Homo sapiens: one gene and its partners. The protein of the gene in region 3 interacts with the protein of the main gene of each other region in a pairwise test. Each region holds a gene or a part of one and is shown on either strand. Other genes may lie near its edges.

Region 1 (5,073 bases), on a different chromosome or scaffold from region 3:
ATGAAGTGTCTGACACATAGAGGCTGAACATGTATTTAATTAGTATACATTAAAATTTTGGTTAACTTTCAAGACTTATGGCCAAACGCTTTTTAAAGCTGTTTTGTTTACTACTTAATTCCAAGTCTTTATTAATTTTCTCCTCTGTATTTCTACAATATTTCTAGATCAAAGAATAGAACATTTGCTATTCTTTGTGATTTGTTACTGCTATAATCTTTTTCTGTTCAATTAATTAAATTATAAACTGCATACTGTTGAACATACAACTAAGCAAATGGTAGCAATACTCTGACAGGTCCACAGATAATTGTTTATTGCTTGCTGAAAAAAATTCCACAGTTTGTTTTACCAAATTCCATCATGATGTATAATGAGTATCTGGGTCTTATAGATCCTTTTACGATGTACCTGGGGTTTATAGTGTAACCTAATCCTTAATACAAATAATATGAGGCTTGTCATAAGACTATAGGAGAAGCCTGTAAAGTTTATGGAAGTCTCCTACCACAGGCCAGGAACTTTACAACAGACCTTTCAGTGAAGACATATGGAAAAGAAAAAGAAACAGAGGTAGAAAGATAGATAGTGTTATCAAATTGTATTAATTTATATGTAATGATTCCTTCACTTCTGAATTAGGCTTTGCATCTAGCTAATCCCTGAACACTCATTGACTTTCAATGTATAAGAAAGTACTTGGTAAAAGACTGCTTCTAAATCTGAAAAGGTTCAAATAGTCTACAATTCACAATTTCTTTATATGTATAGGCATGGATATGATATGCAAATGTTTTTAAATTATAGTGTTTAACCACACTACTTGACTCCTTAATCTCATTTCCAAAGGAGCTGAGATTAAAGAGTAAATCCCCAGCATTCTTCAGAAACAGTACCAGCCCCAAGAGCACCAAGCCTTTAAAAATATTTCCATACATTATTTCTTTTATTCCTTTTAATCTTTTTTAAATAAAGAGGGGAAAGCACTTATCATCTCCATTCAGTTACATAGAATCGGAATGCTGCTATGTGACAGAAATCATCACACTAATGCACAGGAATTGAAGTCAAGCAACTTTGGTCTTGTCTGAATTGAATTAAGTCTTGACCTTGTAAACATTTCCGTTGGAGGTAGAACATACACATTTGACTTTTTGTCAAATAAGGGATAGTAAACAATGATTCTGAGATCCTAATAAATTAAAGGTATTGTAAAGGCATTAAATATACTTTTTAAAAGAAACCAAAGATAAAAAGGCACACAGATGTTTAATAAATTAGAAAGTGAAATGTAAATCTTCATAGTTGAAATGTTTGCATCTTCAGATCTTCACTGGTTTTATTTGATAATTTTGAAACTATGATTAATAATGAGCTCACATTTTAAACTCTTAGTGTGCATGACAAGCTCTGCAAGTATCTCCATTCACTATGGAGTTGTCCATAGTACCAGTGACTTTAAAACAATGTCAGCCACTGCATATTCATTTTTATTTACTCTTATGGAAGTCTGAGTGAATAATGATATTTGCACAGTAGAGATTTTTTTTAAAGTTTTAGCACCCCCTCCCACATTGGTGGTTTAAGTGCCTCCAGCTGCTGTTCCCATGAACACAGTGTTGATAGGTGGTAAAGAGGACACCATTTCTCTACTGCTTGTTCCATGGGAGTCCAGGGTTTCTTGAGCTGGATACTGGTTGGAAGTTCCATACATACATTGGGATGAGGAAGAAGGAATTGGGGTTTGCAAACTGGAAGCTGTAAGGGAAAATATAATCAGCAATTGAAAATTGATTGACATTTTCTTTTCTCTGCAAATGCCACTCATTTTAATACCCTGTATTTATTTTTGCACTTAGCACACATACCTATTCTAAATTTGAGTCTGTATGGTTTACCAGAGCAATCATTTTTTCTTCCATTTGTTCCCACTTGCTAGTCTCCCAGAAATTATTTCCTCTACATATTTCACAAAGAAAACTCCATTTCAACTTAAGTGCTACCGCCAAAATATATCCCCCAATCAACCTCCTCTTTCCATCTGCACTTTCACGGTTGTAGTTCAAACCACCATCTTTTCTCTCCTGGACCAACACAGCAGCCTCCTGACTGGTCCCATGATCTCCACCTTTGTTTCACCCACTCACCTTCCCGAGAGCAACCAGAATGATATTGCTGAAGAGTAGATCAAACTTTCACTCGTCTCAAATGCCATAGTGGCTTCCGATACCCTTGGAACATGAACCAAGCATCTTACCCTATGTAGATGGGCCCCTGATTTTTTATTTATTTTGCTCTACTCTCTCCTTCATTCAACATGCTTAAGACACACTGGCCTGCTCTCTGCCCATTGATTTTTTCAAATTTATTCTGATTTCAGCGGTTCTGCATTCACTGTTTCTTCTGCCTGGAACTCCTCCCTCAGATCTTCACATCTTTGCCTCCTTCTCATCACTCAGCTTTCAACTCAAATGTTTCTGCCTCAGGATTCCTTTCTCAGCTGTCCTACCGAAAGCAGCTCCTCCTTTACTGTCTGTCATTTTACTCTATTTAATCAGGTTCAGAGTACTTGACATTATCTTTTTAATGCATTTGCTCATGTATTTATTGCCTTACTGTCCCTCTACTAGAATGTAAACTTCTTACAGGCAAGAACTATGGCCTGATCACCACCATATCCTCACATCTAGAATGGGGTCTGGCTCCTAGTCGGTTCTCAATAAAATTCATTAACTGGCTCACTAGCCCTGTATTTCTCTCATATATGGTTGCTGCCTTCTTATTGCTGACATGACGTGCTCTCTGTCTAAGAACCAGGCTTTATACTTAAGAAATAGTTGAACTCAATTCTCCTTGCACTACTTATCCACTTATTCTATCCCCTCATTTTACCCTGCAGCACACTTTGTAATCTACTTGTAAGCCAGCTCTGATAAACTAAAGCTTAGACTCCACCCTACTCTTAACCTATGTTTCGTCAAAGCTTCCACTATCTCTTCAGGTAAACAGAACTAATAGTAACAATAGCAACACAGTACATTTTAGTCTCATGGTGAGAAAACTTCCTGAAGTGGAATTTTCTGCTTCATTAGAGTAACCTAGAAGCAATGACCATTTGCAGATAGCAGAAGATGAGCTGCTAGATTCTGCTCAGGGAGCATGTGTGACAGTGACAGGAAGAGAAGGAGTACTTCCTATTGAATTATTGGGAAGGTACACTGAGTGAGGAGAGATGAAATTGATTTCATTTTCCCTTATGCTCTGGTTGCGTGTCAATGCCCTCTACTTATGCTAGTCTGAAATCAATCTCATTGGAAGACTTTAACCATCTCATATAAATATTAACACTCTGCTTTGATACTTAGTGAATATATACTTGCCCTGTGAAATCTTATTAGTATTTTTAGAAACTAAATCTATAGTGACTAAATCTATGTTATTACTAATAACATACTAATTATTATTGCAGAATTTCTTCATAGATGAGGATTAAGAAATGTAACCTGGTTGGAAGAAGATTCCAGGAGGCTTCACGGCAAGCACACGTTTTTCTTATTTTTACTTACATGATATGTTAGAGAGCAATAAAAATGGCAACATTTTCTACAGAGGTGTTGAATCACATTTTACATAAGAATGAGAAAATGCTAGTAGCACCCATCACAGGACACCAGTTTTTTTTAATCTTGGAGTGATTTTTGGATACTGATGGAGATCATGAGGCCTAAAGATATCTCTTGGCACTACAACTGGGTCCAACACTAATCAAGAGTGAGAAAAGGATATTATTACTGCCCTTTTAAAACTTACAGTTTTAGACTGCATTTGACAGGTCATATTAATCTTTTGCATACTTAATAGATACCAGCTATTTTTTTTGTAAAAAGTAACAGATCTAGCAGTAGGTTGCATAATAGAGATATACAGAATAAGAAATGAAAAACTGTTACTAACTGTGTAGTCAGATACAAAAAATATAACTTTAGATCCAAGGTAATAAATCAACCGTGGAAACATGCTTGCTCAGTTCACCTCAGCATATCTCCCTCAAGTAATGTTGCATACCTGAGGTTAACAACTTCTTAAAATGTTTTCAAGAACTGCTAAAATAATTTACCTAGGACTGGAGTTCGACATGCAACTGGAGATGATGTGTCTGTGTAAAACGAGCTGGTCTGTTTTCTACCACTGTCATCTAAAATGTTAAGTGGATCGTGGATGTCACTGTAGGGGGGCAGTGAACGAATGCTGCTGATGACAGAAACGTGCTGATTCACCATTGATCCGAGCCTGTGAGACTCTGGGTAGTTTATGTTGCTTCCATAGTATCCTGTAACAGAAAATGTTGAGAATTTGCTGTTAACTTACTACAAAGAACTTTCAGGAAGGAAAAAAGTGACAAAGTAATGAGGTGACGTCCTAAAGATATCAAACTGTAAGTATTACATGTGTATCTATACATGCTACAGAACTGGATTTGTGCTTGTACATGGATAAGGTTTACTGTGCTGTTTTTTGTGTTTTTTAACACATAAGAATTGTAGCATCATACATAATTTAATACAATAATTATAGCATAATACATAATTTAAGACATAAGAATTGTATTAACTTTAAGACCAGATTACACTTCTGTCAGATTTCCCTTATCTAAATTAACAAGATCTACCTTTGAAGGAAAAAAAGCACTATCGCCTGTCACAAAAATACTACTTTCATGTATAGATGCATGTTTAGGGAAGACAAAGACTGGCCTACACTTAGGAGAAAGACACCAAAGAAGCCTACACACAAAGCCTATTTTGGTGACTCAAGGTCACAGGTCTCTCTAATTCCCTTAACTTCCTATTTTTATTGGTCTGTTTTGTTCCCAATCTTTAAAATCTGCTTTTAGTTATCAGGAAGAAATATTATCCACTAAAAATGTTTTCAAAAGACAGAACATTCTTCTTTGGGGCTATTAAGGTAGGTCTCAAACATATGATTTAACTATCTTTTTTTTTTTTTTAACATATGCGGTATTTAGGAGGACAGCTTTAGGCCGGGGGTGTTGGCTCACACCTTTGGGAGGCA
Region 2 (8,653 bases), on a different chromosome or scaffold from region 3:
GTATGAGCAAGCGGGACACCTGTGCAAGGGAAATATCAATAAATGTGCTGCTTTTAGGAAGATGGGGGATGGGGGAGGGCAGAGAGCTCTTTCTGTGTCTGCTTTCTTTTTCATAGCCTTCAGTTCAAAATATTCTTGTGCCAAAATGTGGGCATTTGGAGGGTGGCACATCCTGATCTCTTCTCTAAGGGCTAAGTGAGGGGGAAAAGCATAAAGCATGGGCCCATTCTGATTCCAGAGAATGGAAAGGATGGAATTGGATAGAGTCAGAGGAAGTATGGCAGCAAGAAAATATATCTGCAATAGAGAAGGTCCATGTCACAGCAACTGGCTGCTCCCAGGGAGGAGGGCACACAACGGTGGTGATCCCTCACTGTCTTCTAGCAAAACTGCTGTTTTGTGGGGGAAACATCCCCCTACACCTGCCCCAATAAAAAGAAGGAAAAATGAAAGGAAGCTTCCTCCTAGTTCTGTAAAATTTCCTGTCATCCTTACTCATTGGATTGATTGAAATTTGAATTTCTACATTTCAAAATCAAAATAGTGAAGACAATTTGTCTTTCAAGAGAATCAGAGGCCTCATAACTCCTGCCAAGTTAATAAGTATGAGTCTTACCTTGTTTGACATTCAGCTCTCCTGCTACATTATCTTCTTTAAGGAAAATTAATTGATTGTAAAATATGTGCTACTTCACTCGCATTATTAAATATGCATTAACATGCCACCAGGACTTCCAAATAAGTTAGGATGCTTACTTATTCACCTTGTCCTAGTCTGTGAATTGTGCTAGAAATTCATTTTTCTTCTTCAAATATTAAGAGTGCCCTTGGTAGACCAAAGTTCTAATTTTACTAAGTAGAACTACTTTCACAGCTTGAAATGCTGATATGGGTTCCCAAAAGGCCTGTGCCTGTAAGACCTGGTGCAGGTGCAATGGTTATGCATATCTATGGATTACCTGGACAGGCTCTCATCTGGACTGTTCCTCAAAGAAGGGAGCACCAATTGCTGTTTTCATGGAGCTAGTACTCCAGTGGGAAAGGTTAAACAGGAGCACAAAGTCAGTGATATGGGTTATAAGAGAGAAATGATCTCACCTCCAAGAAAGGATTTCACAGCTAGAGCACACTTCATACATGAGAGTGGATTTTGTAACCAACGATAGAAATGAATGTTAGGGTTTTTTTTTTCTAATCTCATTTTATTGTACCTCTAAACGTTTTCTATGAATAAGGAACTTATTTCTCATATGGCTGAGGATGGAAATGACTTCATTCAACAGTAGTTGCAAATAAGACGTTTGCTATTTATGAAGGAAGTTCGGATTGGCATTTAAAGTATTGCGTGTATGTGGAATATCTAAGGATTTCTTATTTTATTTTAAAATATTTTTTAAACCTTAAAACAGTCAGCAAACTGGCTCTTGATTTTGTGCAAGATGTTCCCATCAGTTCAGGAAAAATAACTGCCTGAAAGGACAAAGTACACACACACACGTGTGCAAACACTCACACCCACATACGCATACACACACGCGCGCGCACACACACAGGCTAGCATCCCCAGGCCTCAAGGTTCTAAGCAGGGCATCTCAAACCCAGCAGAGTATCATACCAACAACACCCACACCTAAAAACAGTGACTGGGTTATTTCTATTTATTCAGTAGAATCATCAACTGCCCCCTAGATATGGCCGCCTCTAAGAAGGGATACCAACTCAAGAAAGAATAATATGCTCTTCTTGCCCTCAAGGAGAAGGACAGGCAGAAATAAGCATGCAATTACAATATAATTGATGTTAAGGAAAATGGCGGAGGTTTGCACCAAGTGCATTGTATTCTTATATTTATTATTTTTTATATTTTGTCTTGCTATCTTACCAGGGCTGGTCTGAAACCCTGGCCTCAAGCAATCCTCCTGCTTTGGCCTTCCAAAGTGCTGGGATTACAGTCATGAGCCACAACACCCAGCCAGCACCAAGTGCATTGTAAATAATATATAGCTGGAGCTGAGCTGACTGAGGAGTCTGTGACAGCATCACCAAAGGAGGGAGAATTTGATTAGGGCTTTAAGGATGGTCAGGTCACAGTAGGAGGTGGGGTGGGCAGAGCACTGCAAGCAGAGAGAACTATCTGTACAGACTCAGAACCCTAAAGGAGAAGAGCACATGAGCCTGGGATGGAGGAAGGGAACACGGTATAGGGAAAGGGGGCAGGCTGGCATCAGGTCAGGTGGCCTCTGCGTGTGCTAAGGCATTTTAGAAGGAATCGCTCAGAATTTACGCAGTCAAATTGTGATTTTTTTTTTGAGACAGGGTCTCACTCTGTCACCCATGCTGGAGTGCTATGGTATGATCTCAGCTCACTGCAGCCTCAACCTCCCAGGCTCAAGCAATCCTCCCACCTCAGCCTCCTGAGTAGCTAGGACTACAGACATGCGCCACCACACTTGGCTAGTCTTTGTTTTGTTTTGTGTTTTAGAGATGAAGTCTCACCCTGTCGCCCAGACTGGAGTGCAGTGGCATGATCTTGGCTCACTGCAACCTCCACCTCCTGGGTTCAAGCAATTCTCCTGTCTCAGCCTCCTGAGTAGCTGAGTTTACAGGCATATGCCACCACACCTGGCTACTTTTTTTGTATTTTTAGTAGAGACAGGGTTTCACAACGTTGGTCAGGCTGGTCTCAAACTCCTGACCTCAAATGATCCGCCTGCCTCAGCCTCCCAAAGTGCTGGGATTACAGGCGTGAGCCACCGTGCCCGACCTAATTCTTGTATTTTTTTGTAGAAATCGGGTTTCACCATGTTGCCCAGGCTGATCTCAAACTCCTGAGCTCAAGTGATCTGCCTGCTTCAGCCTTCCAAAGTGCTGGGATTACAGGTGTGAGCCAACTGCACCAGGCTGATTTTTTTTTTTTTAATATTACTTTGGTGGCCCCATTGAAAGTGCTTGGAAAAGGAGAGGGATTTGTGTGTGGCTGGGACATCCGTTGGGAAGTTACTGTCATAATCCAAACCAGGCTAAAGGCAGTGGATGCAGACACTGGGACGGAGGTACTAATACTGATGAGGTGACCCCTCCACAATGAAATTCAGGAGTAAAGATGAGGGCCTAAATGCTGCTCTGGCTCTGAAGATTTCTGTTTTCTCCTCTGTAAAAGAGCATAATAATGGTACCTATCTTGGGATTGTTGAAATAATTAAATAAGCTAATATTATATATGTATAATGGACATTTTATACACACACACACACACACACACACACACACACGTATATACATACTTGTGAAAACAGTGCCTGGCACATAGTATGAACATAACAATAGCAGCTTTTGATGCTGAGCAGCTTAAGGAAAGTGTGGAGTCAATGTTTCCAGCTTGGGATGTCAACTTGGAAGTGATTCCCTTTGTTTATTTATTGCTGTTGTTTTAAATAGAGACAGGGCTTCACTCTGTCACCCACGCTGAAGTGCAGTGGCACAATCATAGCTTATTGCAGCCTCAAACTCCTGAGCCCAGGCAATCCTTTGACCTCAGCCTCCTGAGTAGCTGGGACTACAGGCACGTGCTACCACAACTGGCTAAGTTTTTTTATTTTTTATATTTGTAGAGACAGGGTCTTGCTATGTTGCCCAGGCTGGCCTCTAGTGATCCTCCCATCTCTTCCTGGGTTTCCCAAAGTGCTGAGATTACAGGTGTGAGCCACCTCACCCAGCCTCGGGCAAGGCTTTATTTAGGTAGAAAATCTAGGAATAAAGTTAGAGCAAAAAAGAGAGTGAGTTCTCTTTGAGGCCTGTTGGTTGAAATTAAGTTGACTCCAGGCATCTTCATGAAGGGGTAGATGAAGTAGGAAGCTTGTAGCATACGTTCACCTGGAGCTCAGAAGAGGACACACATTTGGGAGCTGTTAGCATAGATATGAGCGCGGATAAGACCACTGTGAGGGAAGCCTGGGAAACAGTAGCGCTTAAGGAGTGGGGAAGTTAGAGATGTCAGAGAATGAAGCAGAGGGCCACAGGGAGAGAAAGAGCAGCAGAACCAGGAGAGGGGCGATCTGGAGAAGTCAAGGGAAAGTAGAACCACAAGTCAACAGAAAAGACTCCGAAAGGACAGAGGAGTCTATAGAGTGAGGCCACGGGTTCACTTGACTTGCCAGCTAGGAGGTTACTGGTGACGCTAGGGTTGGGGAAGGAGGAGAAGTTTGTGTTATGAGCGGGAGTTAGGCTAGGAAAAATGGTAGCAGAATGAACGCTCTTCTGGTGCAGTGGTGGTGCTAGGGAGGGGCGGGGAAGGGGAAGACCTAGGGCAGGCAAAGGCAGTTGTGGGGAGGTGTTTTTATGTTAAAAAAAAAAAAATTCGTTGTGAAATACAACATACAGAAAAATACATAAAAACAAATATACAACTTATAAGGCGAACTGTCACTCAGGTCAAGAAACAGGATATTGCCATCCCTCAGGGTCCAGCCCTACACATTTCATCACTGCTGCCTCCCTTCCCTGGGGTAAACCCAACCAGGGGTGACTACTGACCCAAATGTGGGGCAATTACTTCCTTGCTTTTCTTTATACCTTAACTTCTAATTATGAATCCCCAAGCAGTACCTTTGCCTGGTTTTGAACTTTATATAATAGAAACACAAAATGTATTCTTTGCTTATATTGAAACTTTTTTTTTGTTTTTTTGAGACAGAGTCTCGCTCTGTTGCCCAGGCTAGAGTGCAGTGGCGTGATCTTGGCTCACTGCAACCTCTGCCTCCCCAGTTCAAGCGATTCTCCTGCTTCAGCCTCCTGAGTAGCTGGGAATACAGGCATGAGCCACCAGGCCCGGCTTGTATTTTTAGTAGAGACGGGGTTTCACCCTGTTGGCCAGGCTGGTCTCAAACTCCTGACCTCACGTGATCCACCCGCCTTGGCCTCCCAAAGTGTTGGGATTACAGGCGTGAGCCACCATGCCTGGCCATCAGCTCTCTAAGATTCACATGGTGTTGCATGTAACTGCAGCTCATCCCATTTCATAATGCACAGGATTCTGCCATGTAAATATTCCACAACTTATACATTTTGCTGCTAGTGGACATTTGCGTTATTAAGTTTGGGGTTTTTGGAGCTTCTACAAACATTGCAGCTAGGGACACTGTTATCCATGCCAGGGGGAGTATCTGTAATAAATTTACTCTGGGGTTGTACTTAGGAGTGGAATTGCTAGGCCACTGGAATAAACATATACTTTCAACTTTGCTGATAGTGTCAGATTGGTTTCCTAAGTGATTTTACCAATTTGCATGCCTATCAGCAGAGTGAGTATTCCCATTTCTCATCATTATTCAGCTGACCTTTTAATGTCAACCATTCTGGTGGGTGTGTAGCAGTATGTCATTGAGTTTAATTAAAATTTTCCTGTTATTGGTTGTTAGATGCCAACTTTTTAAATATTTGCTCAACTTTCTTGCCCATTTTCTCTACTGGATTTTTTCCATTTTTATTTGAAAGAGTTCCTTAGATGTTCTGGTTACAAGCCTATGAAAGGAAATTAAATTTTGGGACCCCAAACTCATTTAACCAAAGGGAAAAGTCAAGCTGGGAACTGGGTCACGCATACCTATCTCCCCCTTTTGGTTCCTAAATAAGATGGCTACAAGATGAAAAGCTACACGCTTCCCCCATGTTTTGCCCACAAGGAAATTCCTGGTGAGCTATAAAAACTTCACCATGGCAATGTAATTGATAACTTATCTTTACAGGTGCAGTCACCCCAGATACAAATGCATATCTGATTGTTCCCCTACCCCATTTCGTCTGTATTATCTTATGTAAAATGCAGATTCTCCACATTTTTCCTTTGCCCCCTTTGTTTACATGAAAACTGTGTGCTTCTCACTATCCCGCCCTTTCTCCTTTAAATTTGGAGCCCTCAAAATCATCTCTGGAGAAAGGGATAGACCTGTCTCCCAGGCAGTTCCTTAACTTTGGCAAATAAATCTGCTAAAATGATTGAGACTTGTCTCATCATTTTCCTCGATTGACAAGCCCTTTGTCAGTTATGATTTGTAAATACCTTCTACCACTGTGAAGCCATCTTTTACTCTAATGGAATATTCTGAGGAACAAAAGTTAATTATATTGGTCCCATTTAGGAAACATTGGGACAAAAGTTAATTATATATGGTCCCATTTAGGAAACGTTGCTTCTCTTTCCTGTATCTTGTCTAAAATATCTTTTCCAACCTGCAAAATCATGAAGATTTTTTTTTCGAACAAGTGTAACTCTTTATTAAGATAAAATTGTTTTTATTAAAGAAATAGATAAAAATGATTAAGTACAATCAAATGGCTCCAAAAGCCTTACAATGAAAGCAACAGTCCTGCCAGTTGTTCTTTCCAGAGGCAAGCACTTCTCATTCTCTCAGTTTTTCCTTCTGGTAGTTACCTTCATGGGTTTTTCCAATTATTATTTTTTTAGTTTTTCAAGTGAATGCATATATTAATACATGAAATTTTTAAAAGCCTCTTCAGTTTATAATGCATCCTACCAGTCCCCTACCCTATCCCTCCTAATTCTCCAGAGCAATGACTTTTAACTCTTTTAGCAATGTCCTCTATTTTTTTCTCACATAACTACTTAGGCATTTCTTGATTGTTTTATACATTATATAGTGATTTCTTGATATGACAGATGAGGATTTAGCTCTTACACCATCACTGTCTTCACTTTTCCTCCCATATTGTCCCAAAGTAGTTACCAGATTTAGAGGCTAAGCAGTCATCACTTCATTATGACAATGTCCATATTGCTCATTGTTGAGAACAACAGGGTATTATGCTCTAAAGTCATTAGGATATTTTCTAAAAGCTTATACTTTCATTCACATTGAGGATCTCTATTCCCCCTGAAATTGAGTTTAATGTATAGTGTAAGGTAGGAGTCAAGTTTGCTTTCCACACGAACATCCACTTATTTTGGCATTATTATTTTTTAAATTTACTTTTAACACCACTCAGTGATCATCAACATTGCTTTAAAAAAGAACCTTTTCCCCACTCCACAGATATTTTGCCACGTGTCCATATTTGGGAGAGGCTTTTTGGAACAGGGCAACTGAAAGATTTTTCCAAACTCAGAGGAGATGGGGAAGAATCCAAAGAGATGGAAGTTAACAGCAACAGAGGTCAAAACAGTTCAGAATTTCTAAGAGGAAAATGCAGGAATGTTTTTTAACACATTTATTAAAAGGCATCTCTTGGAATCCCAACTCAAGTTTCCTCCTCCCTGTGAATAAGCAATCAATCTTACCACAGCTGCTCTCAGAGGCACAGAACCCAAGCTTGCTCTGAAGTTAGTTGGGTGGAACTCACTTACGAAAGTCTTGGGAGAGGACTAGGCTGGGGAAATGGGCCTCACTCTGCACAAACACACAGGAAAGGCTGAGTTACTCCATGAGTAAGCCAGTCAAGCAGGTTTGGAGAGTTTGTTAAATGGAGTTTACAATTTGGGAGATCATGTAAGTGTAAGTCCATCAGGGATCCAAACCTGCTGGAGTACAGGTGTAGACTTCTTGTCAAGCACGTACTTTGAATACAAAAGTTCTAAGGTAGGAAGTAACTATGTTATGTAGGGAAGAAGAATATTGTTTCTCCTTAACCCACTAGCCTGGGAAGTCAATATGAATCACATTGAGTACTCTTTCACATTGCTCAAGAGGCGCTCGGCTGGAGCTTCCTATATTCAATTAAAACACACACACACAAAAACACATGACAATAATTCGCTTTTGGGAAGGAGGTTAAAAAAGAAAAGTATATTCTCTACTCTTTCCTCAAGTTTGCATGATCACACCTAGACTTATTTTTAGGGGAAAACAGTGTAGGGGATTGTAAACCAAGTCACTTCCATGGCATCTCAGAGAGAGAGGGTATAAGGATTTAGTTTTTCCTCATTCAAACACTCCTGAAGTGATTCCCCTTGAAATTGAGGAGCCACTTACTCATCAGTGTTGAGGCACTGGAAAGAAAATAGAAAATAATTAATAATGTAGATAAAGATACATTTTTGCTGAGGGCTAAAGCAGAACTTTCTAATATGTAACACTAGCCAGATATGTAATTTAAAACTTTTCTGCAAGCCCATTAAAAATGCAAAATAAAGTAGGTATAACTCTTCACCTTATTTTAACTATATTTTATGGAACCTCATATATTGAAATTAATGAAATAATTTATATTTGTTTCATACCAAGTCTTTGAACATCCAGTGCATATTTTAAACATATAGTACATGTCAACTCTAATGCTACATTTTTATCAGAAATACTTGATCTGTTTTTAGATTTCATAAAATGTATATTTGTAAAAAGTAGATTCATAATCAAGTTGTTCTAAACATGCCTGTTTTTCAATACATGGATCTAATGTTCAGTTTTTAATTTAAATTTAAATTAGTTAAAATTAAATTCAGGTCCTTAGTCATATTAGTCACATTTCAAGCACTCAGTAACCACTTGCCACTGATGGTTATTCTATTGGATCACCCACGTAAGCATGTGTTTTTGGTTTTAGAGTTCATACACACACACAGATCTGGTTATCCTTCCTCTTTAAGGACCTGACCACCAGATTTATGCCAAAAAATTAAAGTAACAACTTTACATTTATT
Region 3 (8,653 bases):
GTAAGATGTCAGATGATATTAAGTGCTATGAAGAAAATGAGGAGGGAAGGGAGATGGGGAGTGTATGTGCGGACAGAGGTTCCCTTTAAATTGTCCCCTTAAATAGGGTGGCCTGGCCGGGCATGGTGGCTTACGCCTGTAATCCCAGCACTTTGGGTGGCTAAGCCAGGCAGATCACCTGAGGTCAGGAGCTCGAGACTAGCCTGGCCAAAATGGCAAAATCGCATCTGGCTGGGCGTGGTGGCTCACGTCTGTAATCCCAGCACTTTGGGAGGCAGAGACGGGCGGATCACGAGGTCAGGAGATCGAGACCATCCTGGCTAACACAGTGAAACCCCGTCTCTACTAAAAATACAAAAAATTAGCTGGGCATGGTGGCGGGTGCCTGTAGTCCCAGCTACTCGGGAGGCTGAGGCAGGAGAATGGCGTGAAACCAGGAGGCGGAGCTTGCAGTGAGCCAAGATTGCGCCACTGCACTCCAGCCTGGGCGAAAGAGCGAGACTCCATCTCAAAAAAAAAAAAAAAAAAAAAAAAAAGGCGAAATCTCATCTCTGCTGAAAATACAAAATTAGCCAGGCATGGTGACAGGTGCCTGTAATCCCAGCTACTTGAGAGCCTGATGTGGGAGAATCACTTGAATCCTGAAGGCAGAGTTTGCAGTGAGCTGAGATCGCATCACTGCACTCCAGCCTAGGTGACAAAGGGAGACTGTCTCAAAAAAATTAAAAAGGTGGCCAGAGAAGGCCTGCCTGGGAAGGGAACATATCAGCAAAGAACAGAAGGAACGGAGAGAGGGATCCCCAGGGACAGCTGAGGGAAGGGCCTTCCAGGCAGAGGGAACAGCCAGTGCAAAGGCCCTGAGACAGGCCTGTCCTGGGGAGTAATTTCAAGGATGCTGGTGTGCCCAGGGGTGCGGAATATGATGCGTCATGGGTGTACACAGGGACCCTCTGGCTGCATGAGGGAAATGATCTTCAGGGCCAGGAGGGGAGCAGGGAGACCCAAAGTGCATAGGACAGGGCCTGGCCCGTGGCAGACTTGTAACAGTCATAACTGGAAGTTGGGAAGAGGGTGGAGGAGGTGGTCTAAGAAGGCAAGGTGGGCTGGGTACAGCAACTCACACCTGTAATCCCAGCACTCTGAGAGGCCGAGGTGGTAGGATTGCTTGAGCCCGGGAGTTTGAGACCAGCCTCGGCAACATAGTGAGACCCCATCTCTACAAAAAAAAAAAAAAAAAAAAAAAAAAGCCAGGCATAGTGGCATGCACCTGTAGTCCCAGCTACTAGGGAGGCTGAGGCAGGAGAATCAGTTGACCCAGGAGGTTGAGGCTGCAGTGAGCCACCATCGTGGCCACTGTACTCCAGCCTGGGGGACAGGGTGAGAACACAAGACCCTGTCTCAAGAAAAAAAATGTCAGGCACGGTGTCTCACACCTGTAATCCCAGCACTTTGGGAAGCCGAGGCAGGTGGATCACCTGAGGTCAGGAGTTTGAGATCAGCCTGGCCAACATGGTGAAACCCTGTCTCTACTAAAAATACAAAAATTAGCCGGACGTGGTGGTGCACGCCTGTAATCCCAGCTACTTGGGAGGCTGAGGCAGGAGAATCACTGGAATCCAGGAGGCGGAGGTTGCAGTGAGCTGAGATCGCGGCACTCCAACTCCAGCCTGGGCAACAGAGCAAGACTCCATCTCAAAAAAAAAAAAAAAAAAAAAAAGAAGGAAAGGCTGTGAGCGAAGGTGTGGTGGTGGGAATCTGCCCCCCTCAGAACTCAGGTCCTCTCCACGCTGTGGCCCACAGTGCCAAGGTTGCCCCTCAGAGCTGGTGCTGAGGTCCGGGCCAGGGAGGCCGAGGACAGGGCGGCAGGGAGAGGGCTTCCTGGAGGAGGCCCCCAGGCCCCGGGAGGTGGCACCAGGGGAATGAGCCCTTTGTGTCCCGCCAGGTTCTTCGTGAACTTTGTGGTTGGGCAGGATCCGGGCTCAGACGTCGCCTTCCACTTCAATCCGCGGTTTGACGGCTGGGACAAGGTGGTCTTCAACACGTTGCAGGGCGGGAAGTGGGGCAGCGAGGAGAGGAAGAGGAGCATGCCCTTCAAAAAGGGTGCCGCCTTTGAGCTGGTCTTCATAGTCCTGGCTGAGCACTACAAGGTCTGCATGCTTTCTCTCTTGTTTCCCAAGCTGGAGTGCAGTGGCGCCATCTTGGCTGCTTCCTTCCTTCCCGCCTTCCTTCCTTTTCTTTCTTTCTTTCTTTTTTTTTTTTTTTTTTTTGAGATGGAGTTTCACTCTGTTGCCCAGGCTGGAGTGCAGTGGCATGATCTCAGCTTACTGCAACCTCTGCCTGCTGGGTTCAAGAGCTTCTCCTGCCTCAGCCTCCCGAGTAGCTGGGATTATAGGCGCGTGCCACCACGCTCAGCTAATTTCTGTATTTTGAGTAGAGATGGGGTTTCACCATGTTGCCCAGGCTGGCCTCGAACTCCCGACCTCAGGTGTTCTGCCCTCCTTGGCCTCCCAAAGTGCTGGAATTACAGGCGTGAGCCACCACACCCAGCCCCTTCCTTCTTTTTCCTCTTTTTCCTTCCTCTTTCTCTGTTCTCTCCTCTTTCCTCCCCTCCTTCCTTCCCCCTTCCCTCCTCTCTTCTTCCTTCTCTCTCCTTCCCTCCTTCATTTATTTCCTTTTTCCATCCCCACTTTTTATGTCAACTTCTTTCTTTTCTTTTCCTTCTTTCCTGCCTATTTTATTTTATTTTATTATTTATTTATTTATTTATTTTTATTTATTGATCATTCTTGGGTGTTTCTCAGAGAGGGGGATGTGGCAGGGTCATAGGATAATAGTGGAGAGAAGGTCAGCAGATAAACACGTGAACAAAGGTCTCTGGTTTTCCTAGGCAGAGGGCCCTGCGGCCTTCCACAGTGTTTGTGTCCCTGGGTACTTGAGATTAGGGAGTGGTGATGACTCTTAAGGAGCATGCTGCCTTCAAGCCTCTGTTTAACAAAGCACATCCTGCACAGCCCTTAATCCATTTAACCCTGAGTTGACACACCACATGTCTCAGGGAACACAGGGTAAGGTTACAGATTAACAGCAACTCAAGGCAGAAGAATTTTTCTTAGTACAGAACAAAATGGAGTCTTCTATGTCTACTTCTTTCTACACAGACACAGTAACAATCTGATCTCTCTTTCTTTTCCCCACATTTCCCCCTTTTCTTTTCGACAAAACCGCCATCGTCATCATGGCCCATTCTTGATGGTCGCTGTCTCTTCGGAGCTGTTGGGTACACTTCCCAGACAGGGCGGCCTGGCAGAGGCGCTCCTCACTTCCCAGACGGGGCGGCCGGGCAGAGGCGCTCCTCACCTCCCAGACGAAGGGCGGCCGTTTCCTGCCTATTTTTAAAAATCCTCTTTTAGCGCTTTTCCTTAGTCCCATTACCCTACTGCTGAGAGTCTTGTAATACATTTCATGTGTATTTCCTCCTACCACTTTGTGTTTTTTGCAAAACGTGTACTTTTTGTTTTCCTCTTGAGACTGGGTCTCGCTCTGTTGCCCAGGCTGGAGTGCAGTGATGCAAACAGCTCACTACAGCCTCAACCTCCCCGGGCTCAGGTGATCCTCTCACATTAGCCTCCGGAGTAGCTGGGACTCTAGGTGCACACCACCACGCCCGGCTAATTTTTGTATATTTTTGTAAAGACGGGGTCTTGCTATGTTTCTCAAGCTGGTCTCGAACTCTTGATCTCAAATGATCCCCCACCTTGGCTTCCTAAAGTGCTGGGATTACAGGCATGAGCCACTGCGCCCGGCCAGTGAGCTGATTTTTGACCTTAGCTTGACCTCTGAGCTGTGGACTCCAAGGTTCCTGATGCTGAGGCTGTCCCAGCTCATCCCCAAGACTATCGACTCCCAATGAAAAAGATCCCTGATCCTTGCTTTTTTTTTTTTTTGAGACAGAGTCTTGCTCTGTCACCCAAGCTGGAGTGCAGCAGCGTGATCTCCACTCACTGCAACCTCCACCTCCCGGGTTCAGGCGATTCTCCTGCCTCAGCCTCCTGAGTATCTGGGATTACAGGAGCCCGCCACCATGCCTGGCTAATTTTTGTATTTTTAGTAGAGATGGGGTTTCACTATGTTGGCCAGACTGGTCTCACACTCCTGATCTCAAATGATCCACCCCCCTCAGCCTCCCAAAGTGCTGGGATTAGAGGCGTGAGCCAGGGTGCCCTGCCCTTGCTTCCTGTTTGTACCTTCCCAGGATCATGGGTGCTGACTCCTGACCTCCCATCTCTGCCCTCCAGGTGGTGGTAAATGGAAATCCCTTCTATGAGTACGGGCACCGGCTTCCCCTACAGATGGTCACCCACCTGCAAGTGGATGGGGATCTGCAACTTCAATCAATCAACTTCATCGGAGGCCAGCCCCTCCGGCCCCAGGTGTGAGGGGTCCCATCCCTTCTTGCGTCCTTTCTTTCTAAATTCAGTTCCACATTCATTTTTTTTCTTTTTTTCTTTTTTTCTTTTTTTTTTGAGACGGAGTCTCACTCTGTCGCCCAGGTTGGAGTGCAGTGGCGCGATCTTGGCTCACTGCAAGCTCCGCCTCCCAGGTTCACGCCATTCTCCTGCCTCAGCCTCCCAAATAGCTGGGACTACAGGAGCCTGCCACCACGCCCGGCTAATTTTTTTGTATTTTTAGTAGAGACAGGGTTTCACTGTGTTAGCCAAGATGGTCTCGATCTCCTTACCTCATGATCCACCCACCTCGACTTCCCAAAGTGCTGGGATTACAGGCGTGAGCCACCGCAGTTGGTCTATTTTTTCTTTTTGAGATGGAGTCTTGCTCTGTCTCCCAGGCTGGAGTACAGTGGTGTGATTCTGGCTCACTGCAACCTCTGCCTCCCAGTTTTAAGCAATTCTCCTGCCTCAGCCTCCCAAGTAGCTGGGATTACAGGCACCCACCATCACATCTGGCTAATTTTTGTATTTTTAGTAGAGACGGGGTTTCACCATGTTGGCCAGGCTGGTCTGGAACTCCTGGCCTCAAGTGATCTGCTGGCTACAGTCTCCCAGAGTGCTGGGATTACAGGTGTGAGCCATGGTGCCCAGCGCATTCCACATTCATTTATTTCCCAAGCATCTCCCTCTGCTGAGTTATGCCAAGAGCCCAGTGATGATCAAGGGATCCCACTGGGAAGACAGACCCATCACTGCAAGGGATAAAGGCCGGGATGGGGAGGCCCTGGCTGAAGGGTTGCAGTTGGGTTTGGGCCCAGACAGAGGGATCAGGGCCAGGACAGGAGGGTGGGTGGAGGCAGGCAGAGGGGTCAGGCCCAGGGCTGGAGACAGGAATGACTGAGATATCTCTGGGCCCTGACCTCACTGGGCTCACAGACATGGCATCAGAGAGTGACAGCCCAGAAATGGTCAGGTCTGTGATAGGGAGGGCACAGGCAGAGGGGCAGGGGCTGGGATATGGAGTATACAGGAGGTTTGGGAGCCTACAGGAAGGGCTTGACTAGTCATGGGTCAGGAAGGAAGTGCTTCCTGGAGTAGGAGGAAGTGTGTAAGGTGAGTCAGAAAGTGAGGATAAGGAAAGGCAAAGAACACACGATAGTGAATGAATTCCCTAGAGGTTGCTTAACACAATCATTAAAAATAAATAACATACAATTAAATTGAGTTTATCAATATTATTATTATTATTATTATTATTATTATTATTATTATTATTTTTGAGGCAGGGTCTGGCTCTGTCACCCAGGCTGGAGTGTGGTGGTGCAATCACAGCCTACTGTATTCTTGACTTCCTGGGTTCAAGTGATCCTCCCACCTCAGTCTCCTGAGTAGCTGGGACTACAGGCACGCACCACCAGCCCCAGCTAGTTTTTAAATTTTTTGTAAAGACAGAGGGGAGGAATTTTCCTATGTTGTCCAGGCTGGTCTTGAACTCCTGACCTCAGGTGATCCACCCACCTCAGCCTCCCAAAGTCCTGAGATTACAGGCGTGAGCCACAGCCCCCGGCTTATAAAGCTACGTTTATTTGTTTGTTTGTTTTTTGTTTTTTGTTTTTTTTTTAGATGGAGTCTTGCTCTGTGGCCCAGGTTGGAGTGCAGTGGCATGATCTCAGCTCACTGCACCCTCTGCCTCCCAGGTTTAAGGAATTCTTCCTCAGCCTCCCAAGTAGCTGTGATTACAGGCACCTGCCACCACGCCCGGCTATATAAAGCTACTTTTAAAAGGCCTTCAGAATAGCTGGCTGAGAATAGAAGTCAAGGCAGAATGGAGTTAATTACAAGGAGGAGAAAAGAGAAGGTAACAGAGAGAAAGAGAGAGAGTAAAAGTTAAAGGTGTTAGACTTGGGAGGGTGAGGCGAGCGGATCACCTGAGGTCGGGAGTTTGAGACCAGCCTGACCAACATGGAGAAACCCCATCTCTATTAAAAATACAAAATTAGCTGGGCGTGGTGGCGCATGCTTGTAATCCCAGCTACACCGGAGGCTGAGGCAGGAGAATCACTTGAACCCAGGAGGCAGAGGTTGAGGTGAGCAGAGATCGTGCCACTGCACGGCACCCTGGGCAACAAGAGCGAAATTCCATCTCAAATAAATAAATAAAAGTGTTTGGCAGAAGGAAGCCCCTGCGCTGAGGTGTGGCCAAGACAGAGAGAGAGGCAGAGACACAGGGACAGAGGCAGAAACTGAGATCAAGATCAGCGAGTGAGGGCCCCGGGACAGCAGGAAGACAGCAAGGGGAAGGGCACAGAGAACAAAATGGACCAAGCATTGTCCTAAAGCTTTGGGGTGACTCACTGGGCATCAGCGATCCCAGAACATGGGGTGCCCCTCTCCGTGAATCTGTGATCGGGGTGCCACCCTTTGATGCCAGAGTTCTCTGGCATAGTGGTGGTGGTGGTGGGCCACCCCAGGGCAGGCACTCTCGACATCTTTCAGTCGCAAATCTGGGGACCCTCTCATAACCGCTTTCTCTTTCTGTGCCCACAGGGACCCCCGATGATGCCACCTTACCCTGTAAGTACTTGCTGATAGGTGAGGGTCTTCCTCCCTAGTGGGGTCCCTCAGCCCCTCTCACCCTTCCTGCCTTCTGTCCATCGTTCAGGGTCCCGGACATTGCCATCAACAGCTGAACAGCCTGCCCGTGAGTGGGAGGGCTGGGAGGGCCCCGGGTGAGGAGTGGGAATGGTGAGAATTGGGGTAGGGGGAGCTAAGAGGGGTTGCAGCCCAAGGTGTACTAACCCAGCACCTAGAGAAACGCCGGAGTCTAATGGGTGTGTCATAGATATCTGTCGACTCTTGGAGAATAATATCGCTTCTTCCTCACTTCACAGACCATGGAAGGACCCCCAACCTTCAACCCGGTATGGCTTGGGGAAACAGAGATGGATGGTGGGGAGGGGGCACGGATCTCCAGGGAATCTGAGACAGCCAGAAAGGGAGTGGGCTGAGGGTTTTGGGGTGGGAGGTAGGGGAAGGGTAGATAGAGTTCGTGGTCAGGTTTAGGGAGCAGAAGGAATTGGGGATGTTTTCCAGGAGGAGTGGGACCTCTCAGAAAATTTGTTCTTGGGCTGGACATGGTGGCTCACGCCTGTAATCCCAGCACTTTGGGATGCCAAGGCGGACAGATCACGAGGTCAGGAGATCGATCGAGACCATCCTGGCCAGCATAGTGAAACTCTGTCTCTACTAAAAATACAAAAATTAGCTGGGCATGGTGGCGCGCGCCTGTAATCCCAGCTACTCAGGAAGCTGAGGCAGGAGAATCGCTTGAACCAGGGAGTCGGAGGTTGCAGTGAGCCGGGATCGTGCCACAGTACTCCAACCTGGTGACAGAACGAGACTCCATCTCAAAAAAAAAAAAAAAAAAAAAAAAAGAAAAAGAAAAGAAAAAGAAAATTTATTCTTGGCCAGACACGGTGGCTCATGCCTATAATCCCAGCCCTTTGGGAGGCCAAGGCAGGTGGATCACTTGAGGTCAAGAGTTCCAGATCAGCCTGGTCAACATGATGAATCCCCGTCTCTACTAAAATGACAAAAGTTAGCCAGGTGTGGTGGCGCACACCTGTAATCCCAGCTACTAGGAAGGCTGAGGCAGCAGAATTGCTTGAACCTAGGAGGCAGAGGTTGCAGTGAGCTGAGATTATGCCACTACACTCCAGCCTGGGCGTCAGAGGGAGACTCTGCCTAAAAAAAAAAACAAAATTTGTTCCTTTGTTCCTGCAAGGCTGGGCGTGGTGGCTCACGCCTGTAATCCCAGCACTTCGGGAGGCTGAGATGGGAGGATTGCTTGAGCCCAGCAGTTTGAGGCTGCAGTGAGGCTTGATCATGCCACTGCACTCCAGCCTGGGTGACAGAGTAAGACCCCATCTCTTATAAGAAAAAAAGACAGGAAAGAAAAGAAAAGAAAAAGAAAATTTCTTCCCACATCTGGCTCTGCTAAGCTGAGAGAGAATGGGACCCCCCGTTCTCTTCCCACAGCCTGTGCCATATTTCGGGAGGCTGCAAGGAGGGCTCACAGCTCGAAGAACCATCATCATCAAGGGCTATGTGCCTCCCACAGGCAAGAGGTATAACGTAAACTAGGTGGGAACCCCCAGCCCCCTCCTCCCTCAGACCCAACAATCTAGACCCTCTGTCCCCTCCTC

The links. The genes of interacting proteins can lie anywhere in the genome.
Region 1: the proteins of LGALS4 (region 3) and RFX6 interact in binary tests that used the Homo sapiens proteins (3 or more experiments, as listed by UniProt).
Region 2: the proteins of LGALS4 (region 3) and SLC28A3 interact in binary tests that used the Homo sapiens proteins (3 or more experiments, as listed by UniProt).

Annotation. Positions count from the first base shown.
Region 1 is NC_000006.12:116,928,016-116,933,088, reverse strand, and holds the end of RFX6 (DNA-binding protein RFX6), read right to left. Parts: intron 4,331-5,073; coding exon 4,118-4,330; intron 1,759-4,117; coding exon 1,583-1,758; 3' UTR 928-1,582; downstream 1-927. UniProt on the Homo sapiens protein: Transcription factor required to direct islet cell differentiation during endocrine pancreas development. Specifically required for the differentiation of 4 of the 5 islet cell types and for the production of insulin.
Region 2 is NC_000009.12:84,330,332-84,338,984, reverse strand, and holds part of SLC28A3 (solute carrier family 28 member 3), read left to right. Parts: intron 1-8,653. UniProt on the Homo sapiens protein: Sodium-dependent, pyrimidine- and purine-selective. Involved in the homeostasis of endogenous nucleosides.
Region 3 is NC_000019.10:38,802,238-38,810,890, reverse strand, and holds part of LGALS4 (galectin-4), read left to right. Parts: intron 1-1,942; coding exon 1,943-2,147; intron 2,148-4,295; coding exon 4,296-4,430; intron 4,431-6,995; coding exon 6,996-7,022; intron 7,023-7,110; coding exon 7,111-7,149; intron 7,150-7,339; coding exon 7,340-7,369; intron 7,370-8,486; coding exon 8,487-8,575; intron 8,576-8,653. UniProt on the Homo sapiens protein: Galectin that binds lactose and a related range of sugars. May be involved in the assembly of adherens junctions.